2 separate regions of the Homo sapiens genome follow, and region 1 is linked to region 2. The links come from fine-mapping of genetic effects on gene expression. A gene starts in region 2. The other region holds a variant in brackets. All regions are shown on one strand. Distances are between the middles of the regions. Region 1 overlaps PSG3 (pregnancy specific beta-1-glycoprotein 3). Region 2 holds the start of CEACAM1 (CEA cell adhesion molecule 1).

Region 1 (4,395 bases), 200 kb after region 2:
CTAGATTTTAGAAAGGTAATGAGGCAGTCATATGCAAGGAAGATTTCAAAGTCTGGAGACAAGAAGTCAAGCAATACTTTGAGAAGTGGTTGAGCTTTATGGGAATGGAGAGAATTACACTATTGAGAGATGTTAAAAATAATGAAGAGGGTTTCACCATGTGAAATTGTGTTTTTCATTTGAATCTGAGAAACAAATGAGCAGAGAGAGAGGCTGGAGATAATTATGTCTAAAAGACAGTGGGGTACAGGGAGCATAAAGGCCAGGGAGAAAGGGAACTGCAGGAATTAGTGCTGAGAAGCAGGAGTTAGTGGAGGAAGGAGGAGATCCAGTCCCAGATACAGGCAAATAAGTCTTTTCCCTCTCCCAAGCATGGCAGTTAGCCCTGCAGGAACCAGGATAAGAGGAAAGGTCATCATACCTGCCAGTCTTCCTGAAATACAGAAATGACATCACGGCTGCTATAATGGATTAAGGCCAGGAAGATGTCCTGTTCCTGAAGGAGCTGTCATGGAAAAAAAAGAAAAGAAGGAATGAAGATGATGTTATTTTACATGGGGGAGCCTCAGGAACAAGCATGTAACATGAGGTACTCTATAATTGTTTCTTCAAGGACTACGTTATTTCTGTTGGAAAATTGATAGGAGATGATTATATTCTTGCAGTTTTTTTTTCCCTCTCACCCTGTTTCTCAGTTGGTGATCAGTCCTCTGTCAATTCTCTACTGTGCTCAGATATTTGGAAGGCTTTCAGATGTGAGAAAGGCTGATTGCTATTTTCTATGTCATTAGAACTTGCCACCTTTGCACCTTTTCATGGTTGCATCTTTTTCTCAGTGTCTCTGTTGTGGCAGTCATGAATGAGACCCTGCCAGGTCTCCATGGCAGAGACTTGATTGACAGAAGGCCCAGGTCAGTGCATTTCAAATTCACCACCTCCTTTGCACAGAAAGCTTCTTTCCTACAGGCTCCCAGCAAGGGCGTGAAAGCAAGTCTAGTTCTCTGAGGCTCTCTTTAACTCTAATGGGTGACTGGTTGGAGGATTCCCCATCAGCCTTGCAAAAACTCTTATAATTGAATTGGTACCTAAAACTTCTTTCTCTTTCTTTTTCACAGGAATCAGCTCTGCATAGTGGTCTGTGGGTTCTCCCGTACTACCTTCATGCCTGCCCCACATTCCCTCACAGGTGTCTTCCCTGATAAGTTATCTTGTATGTCTAATCCCATCTTGGATGCATCTCAGTCAGTAAAAACTAACATACCAGGCTTGATTCTTTGCACTTAGCTTTTTTTCTTTCTCTCCCACAAGTAGTCAGTAACCATGTCCTAGTGTTTTATGTGTTACCTCTTTTTCCATATATATATATATGGAAAAAGGAAGGTACTGTTGAGGGGCACTTCCTATGTGCCAGGCCCTGTGCTAAATACTTTCCCTGTATCTCATTTAATCCACACAATAACCCTGTGAGGTAGACATTATTTCCATTTTGCCGATGAAAAGACAGAAGCTTAGAGTGGTGTAAAACTTTCCTGGTGTCATATGGCTAGTGACAGGTGGATCTGAGATTTGATTCTAGGACTATTTGACCTCTAGGCTAATGATGATGGTAGTCATATAGCAGCTGACATTGGTTCCACTGTGTGTGGCATCTCGTTTTATTGACTGCATTAAACCTTTAAAAGAAAGGTATGAAGAAAGCACTCTTATTGCAGTTTTCAGGTGAGGTATCAGAGGTTCAGAGAAATTGAGTCTTGTGCAAGAAATTTATAACTGTAAACTCTTACATTAAAAAAGAAGAAAGATCTCAGGTCAACAACCTACTTTAATACTTCAGGATATGAAAGAAGAACAAACTAAACCCAAGCACAGTGAATGAGGGAAAAATAAGGATTAGAGTGGATATAAATAAAATGGAGAATGGAAAAAGAATAGAGGAAATTAATGAAACCAAAAGTTGATTCTTCAAAATAAAATCAACAAAATTGACAACCATTAACTAGATTGACTAAGAAAAAAAGAGAAAAGTTTAAAATTCCTAAAATCAGAAATGAAAATGGACTCTGAGCATGGTGGGTCATGTTTTAATCCTAGCACTTTGGGAAGTCACAGCAGAAGGATTTCTTGAGACCAGGTGTTTGGACCAGCATAGGTAACCTGGGGAGACCCTGTCTCTACAAAAAAATAAAAAAGCCAATTAGCTGC[G/A]CATGGTGACATGCACCTGTAGTCCTAGCATCTTGGGAGGCTGAAGAAGGAGAATTACTTGAGCCCAGGAGGTTGAGGCTGCAGTGAGCCATAATCACACCACTGTATTCCATCCTGGGCTGGCCTACAGAGTGAGAGCCTGTCTCTCTCTCTTCAACAACAACAACCAAAAAAAAAAAAAAAAAAAGAAAAAAGAAAAATGAAGCGATTACTACCAATTCTAATAAACTAATGATTATGAAAGTACTATAAATAATTGTATGCCAATAAATTGGATAACCTAGATGAAGTAGACAAACCCCTAGAAACACACAAAAATATGAATGGAACTATAATCAGTAATAAGATTGAATCAATAAAACATTTGATGAAATTCAATATTTTTTCATAATAAAAACTTTCTAAGAAGGGAAGGAAACCACCTCAACGTAAAGGCAATATGTGAAAAACCCAATGCTAACATCATACTCAACGGAGAAAGACTGAAAGCTTTCCCTGTATGAGCAGGAACAAGACAAGGGTGCCTGCTTTTGACACTTTTATTCAACATAGTATTGAAAGGTCTAGTCAGAAAAATTAGGCAAGAATTTAAAAAAAGACGTTAAAATTGGAAGGAAGGAGTAAAATTATTTCTGTTTACAGATAACTTGAACTTATATGTAGAAAATCCTAAAGATGGAACAAACCTATTAGAATTAATAAATAAATTCAGTAATGTTGCACAATACAAAATCAACATTCAAACATCAGTTGTATTTCAATACACTAACCATGAACAATCTGAAGGGAAATTAAGAAAAAAAATTTCAATTTATATTAACATCAAAAAGAATAAAATATTTAGGAATGAGTTTAACCAAAGAGGTAAAATGATTATACCTGAAATCTACAAAATATGGCTGAAAGAAATGAAAGATGACATCAATAAATTGAAAGACATTTTGTTTTCATGAATTGGAAGACTCAATATTGTTAGGAGGACAGTGCTACCTGACGTGAGCTGCAGATTCAATAAAATTCCTATCAGAATCTCAGTGACATTTTTGCAGTAAAAAAAAATCTGTCCTAAAATTTATATTGCATCTCATGACTCTAAATAGACACACAGCTTTGAAGAGGAAGAATGAAGCTGGAGGACTCACACTTCCTGATTTCAGCATTTACTACAAAGCCCCAGTAATCAATACACTGTGGTACTGGCATAAAGGAGGACATAGAAATTAATGAAATATAATAACCCAGAAAGAAATGCTTGCATATATGGCCAAATGATTTTCATCGAGTGTGCCAAGATCGTTCAATGGGGAAGGGACCGTTTTCTCACCAAATGATATTGGGAAAGGTGGATATCCAAGGGCAAGAACAGTGGAACCTTTACCTAACACCATGTACAAAAAGTAACCCACAATAGATCAAAGATCTAAATGTAAGGGCAAAAACTATTCAACTCTTAGAAGAAAAGCTTCATGATACTGGATTTCACAATGATTTCCTGGTTGTAACAACAAAAGCATAGGCAACAAATAAAATGGATAAATCGGACTTCATAAAAATCAAAACCTTTTATATATCAAAGAACACTATCAAGAAAGTAAAAAGCAACCCACGAAATGATAAAAATATTTGCAAATTATATGTGTGATAAGAAATTAATTTCCAGAATACATGAAAAGCTACAAGTCAACAACAGCAAACATCCAAAAACCCAATTAAAAAATGAACAAAGGATTAAAATGGAGTTTTCTCCAAGGAAGATATACAAATATCAAATAAGCCCATGCAAAGTTCCTCAGCATCAGGAATACTTGGAGATATGCAAATCAAAACCACATTGTTACACCACCTCACACACTTTAGGATGGTTTTGATAAACAACAACAATGACAGCAACACAAAACAACAGGTGTTTTCAAGTAGATGGAAAAATTGGAGCTCTAGTGCATTGCTGATGGGAATGGGAAATGTTATAGCCACTGTAAGAAGTGGTGTGGCTCTCTCTCAAAAAATTAAACAATAAATTACCATTTGATCCAGCAATTCCACTTCTGGACATAATCCCCATAGAATTGAAAGAAATTTGAACAAATATTTGTAAACTGATGTTCAGAGAAGCATTACTCACACTAGCCAAAAAATGGAAACAACTGAAAAGTCCATTGAAAGATAAGTGGGTAGGCAAATGAGGTGTATCTA
Region 2 (4,395 bases):
CTCCTCAGGGTCACCAGGAGTTGAGAACCTTGGGATAGTGTTTTGGAGCAGGGGATTCCCAGGGCTGAGCTTGTCTGTGAGGATCCCAGAAGGCCCTTCAGGCCAGACCCTGACTGAGTCCTACTGGGTCTTTCTTAGGGACATGTTCACCAGGAGGGTCCCGGGGGGCTAGATTGAGACTGGTCTCCCCTCGATAAGTTACCCACATCAGATTGTCCTTCCTCTGAAGCAAATGTCTGCAGGATCAGGACTCCAGAGTAAGACATTCGGTATTTTGATGTCTGTCCCATAGTGTGTCCTGCACTAGATGCTCAAACCTTAACATGGGGTATAATGCAGAGGAGGACACAGGCACAGCCCAGGCCTGACAATCCCATGTGTGGGAAGTAGAACTAACCCCCCAACACCCAGAGGTCATGGGGAAATACTCACGGTATACATGGAACTGTCCAGTTGCTTCTTCATTCACAAGATCTGACTTTATGACTTGTAGGGTGTAGAATCCTGTGTCATTCTGGGTGACGTTCTGGATCAGCAGGGATGCATTGGGGTATATTGTCTCTCGACCGCTGTTTGCGGGCCCTGGGGTAGCTTGTTGAGTTCCTATTGCATATCCTACAATTTGACGGTTGCCATCCACTCTTTCCCCTTTGTACCAGCTGTAGCCAAAAAGTTGCTGGGGCAGATTGTGGACAAGGAGAAGAACCTCCTTCCCCTCTGCAACATTGAATGGCATGGATTCAGTAGTGAGCTGGGCAGTGGTGGGCGGGTTCCAGAAGGTTAGAAGTGAGGCTAGGAGAGAGGAGAGAGCATCAGTCAATATTGGGACCTATGCATTAGGGTAGAAAAATGGGGCCTTGGGTCCTGAGCAGGTGTCTTCACCCCTCCACCTTGGAGTGTGTGTGTGTGTGTGTGTGTGTGTGTGTGTGTGTGTGTGTGTCCTACTGGGTCAAGGTCAGCAGTGTGACTCCCATTCCCTTAGTGCCTCTGACCTTGTCATTTCTCTGGAATGCCCTTCCCCAGGGATCCGCATGGCTCCCTCCCCACTGCCCTCAGATCTTGATCACATCAGGGTGCTCTTGGGAGATCCTTTCCCTGACACCTCCCCTAGAGACCCTGGGTATTCCCTTTCTGACCTTTTTCTGCTCTGTTCCCTCCAGGGCTCTTGTCAACACCTGACCTCACATTCTAGATCTCTTTGCTTGTCTGTCTTCCCCACCCATGAGAGCGTGAGCTCCGTGAGGGCAGGGATTTGTGTGATGTTGGTTGCACCCCAGTGCCTGGGATAGGCTGCAGACTCCTGTGGATGAGTTAGTGAGCATTCCCAGGGCTCTTCATGTCCTGGGGTTTATTTGCCAATATCTGAGGTTGGTGGCTCAGGGCTCTGTTTAATGCCCCTTTTAAAATGTTTTCCTTAATTGTCACGCTGACTTAAATTGTGATTATTGTCAGCAGTTTTTGAAATTTATTGCTCATTGATGATTCAGTTGGAAAAGGTAAAAAATGGGAGATTGTTTATTCACTAACAGTTTCAGATCACTGAGACTTTCCTTTTATGATCTCTATCCCTTTCATGTCCTCTCTCCTATTTGGCTCCAAGAGAAGCCCTCTGTCCCCTCTTAGAGCTCCATCCTCCCCAGAGGACCCTAGCCATTCTCTGTGCGCCCTCTTTCCGCCCCTTCCCAGGGTGTCCTCCCCTCACCTGTGAGCAGAAGCCCCTGCCAGGGTACACGCACTCTGTGAAGTGGGGCTGAGAGGTGCCCCATGGTGTCTCCTGCTGGCCCTGTCTTCACCTGTGGAGGAGAGCTTGGGCTCCAGGAACGCTTCGAGCACGGCTGCTCTGTCACCTCTGCTGTTTTCCACTCTCTGTGCTGAGCCTCCTCCCTGGGGCCCAGAGCTTTGTCTGATCATGTGTGCTGGGGCGGGGTTTGTCCAGGAAGCTCTGTTTCCTCTCCTCTCATTCCTACCTTTGTCCTTACTTTCTCTTTCCTTTCTGTCTACATTTTGGTTTCCCAGACCACACTTTGAGAATCAAGGCTGATGAGACCTCTGTCCCCATCAGGGGAGGAGGATCCCCCCTCTCCAGCACTGACCTCTATTGTGTCCTGGCTATGGGTCTGTCAGCAGCACACAGAGAACCCTGGCATATCCAAATGTGGTAATTATTTTCTTTGCAACACAGTGAGCTGCCAGGTCTCCCCATGCTCTTCAGTGTGCTGGGAAGGTAGGAAGACACCCAGCAGGAAGGTGACAGAGGTGGCTCTGGGGGATGGAAAGGGGCTCACTGGGGGATGACTGGGGAGGGACCAGCCCTCTGTCTCTAGTGTCACCAGCCTGGCCTCTAACCCAGGGACAGAGACCCAAGTCCAGGGGTCTCAGGTGGAGCTGCAGCTCCCGGATATGGAGGGGGAGGTGTCCTGTGTGTCCTGGGAAGAGAGGACTGTGATAGAGGGAGGTGGGTGGCTCTGGGCTCTACTGTCCTTGGGGAAGACTTCAGGGGGACCCTCCCTCCCTTGAGCTGAGGCTCAAGGCCTGTCCATGTTCTCCCTGACCATCCTGGGTGGTCTCTGTCCTCTGCGAGGCTGATTGTCCTGTGGTCACCGCACCTTCCCCACAGGTGGTGCCAGGAGGGAATGGGGAGCTGCACAGGGACCCCTCACAGAACAGGGTCCTCAGAGGACCCAGGAAGGGACAGAGCAGGTACATGGGAGGGCCTGGAAGGGTGTTTTGGAGCAAGGGATGGAAAGTGGGCTCTACCTTCACCTCCTTAGCAAAGCCAGGTTCATGACCAGGGGAATGTTTCCTGAGTGTTGTCTGTGTGCAATGTCTCCCCCTGGAGGGCAAGACAAGGCCTGCAGCCTTGTCAAGGGCTGCCCCAGGGATGCTGACCAGGGTCTACATGATGTGAGCTGGCCCTGACCCCTGGGCAGATGTGGGCTCTGACCTCCAGGCTTCAAGGTCAAGTCACCCCAGGTCCTGTTCACTGCGGGTCCCCAGGCTGCCCAGCTCCATGCGGTGCAGGATGAGCCCAGGGAGAGGACGTGAGTTGTCCAGAGGACTTCTGTCAAGATTGGAGAGAACTGTCCACCAGGGGGATGGGCTGCCTTAGAAGGAGCCATCTGTCCCAGAGGTTTGAAAAACAAAAGCAAAAACAAAACAAAACAAAAAAACAAAGGCCCAGTGAGGTGCCTTTGGGGGCTTGAGAATGAAATCCTGTCACATGTGGCAACATGAATGGAAGTGGGCTAGGAACAGAAAGTTAAACATCACATGTTCTTACTAATATGTGGAACCTAAAAACAGTTGATCTCATGGAAGGAAAAAGTAGAACAGAGCATACCAGAGGCTGGGAAGGGTAGAGGAAGGGAGGGACAGGGAAAGATGTGTTAAAGGATATAAAATTACAGCTAGATAGGCCGGGCACAGTGGCTCATGCCTGTAATCCCAGCACTTTGGGAGGCCGAGGCGGGTGGATCATGAGGTCAAGAGATTGAGACCATCCTGGCCAACATGGTGAAACCCCGTCTCTACTAAAAATACAAAAAATTAGCCAGGTGTGGTCGTGGGCACCTGTAGTCCCAGCTACTTGGAGGCTGAGGCAGGAGAATCACTGGAACCCGGGAGGCAGAGGTTGCAATGAGCCAAGATTGCACCATTGCACTTCAGTGTGGCGACAGAGTGAGACTCCATCTTAAAAAAAAATAAGGCCAGGCGCGGTGGCTCACGCCTGTAATCCCAGCACTTTGGGAGGCCGAGGCGGGTGGATCATGAGGTCAGGAGATCGAGACCATCCTGGCTAACAAGGTGAAACCCCGTCTCTACTAAAAATACAAAAAATTAGCCGGGCGCGGTGGCGGGCGCCTGTAGTCCCAGCTACTCGGGAGGCTGAGGCAGGAGAATGGCGTGAACCTGGGAAGCGGAGCTTGCAGTGAGCCGAGATTGCGCCACTGCAGTCCGCAGTCCGGCCTGGGCGACAGAGCGAGACTCCGTCTCAAAAAAAAAAAAAAAAAAAAATACAGCTAGATAGGAGGAGGAATAAGTTCTAATGTTCTATACCACTGTAGGATGACTACAGATTTTTTTTTTTTTTTGAGACAGGGTCTGGAGTACACTGCAGCCTCAACCTCCTGCGATCAGGTGATCTTCCTGCCTCAGTCTCCCATGTAGCTGGAACTATAGGTGCACGCCACCACGCCTGGCTAATTTTTTGTTTTATTTTTCAATTTTTTTTTAAATAAAGAGACAGGGTATCACTATGTTGCCCAGGCTGGCCTTGAACTCCTAAGCTCAAGTGATCCTCCGCCTAGGCCTCCCAAAGTTCTAGGATTACAGCCACCATGCCCAGCCAAGTGTTTTGATTTTTTTGTAGAGACTGATCTTATTATGTTGGTCAGG

What was found. PIP is the estimated chance that this variant, and not a neighbour inherited with it, causes the effect.
Region 1: its variant is the best candidate, but not a certain one, in a credible set for the expression of CEACAM1 in whole blood (INTERVAL, PIP 0.63).

The regions. Positions count from the first base shown.
Region 1 is chr19:42,723,521-42,727,915 of GRCh38, forward strand. PSG3 (pregnancy specific beta-1-glycoprotein 3) reads right to left here. Exons shown (of 7, transcript NM_021016.4): 6 at 422-505. The coding sequence ends at 462. Among named protein-coding and RNA genes, the nearest start is that of PSG3, 15 kb to the right of the region's middle. The variant G/A (reference allele first, on the strand shown) is at 2,203.
Region 2 is chr19:42,526,609-42,531,003 of GRCh38, forward strand. It overlaps CEACAM1 (CEA cell adhesion molecule 1), which reads right to left and starts at 1,873. Exons shown (of 9, transcript NM_001712.5): 1 at 1,703-1,873; 2 at 433-792. The coding sequence starts at 1,766. The region is part of intron 2 of LIPE-AS1 (LIPE antisense RNA 1); the gene reads left to right. RefSeq lists enhancers at 1,881-1,950, 2,173-3,035.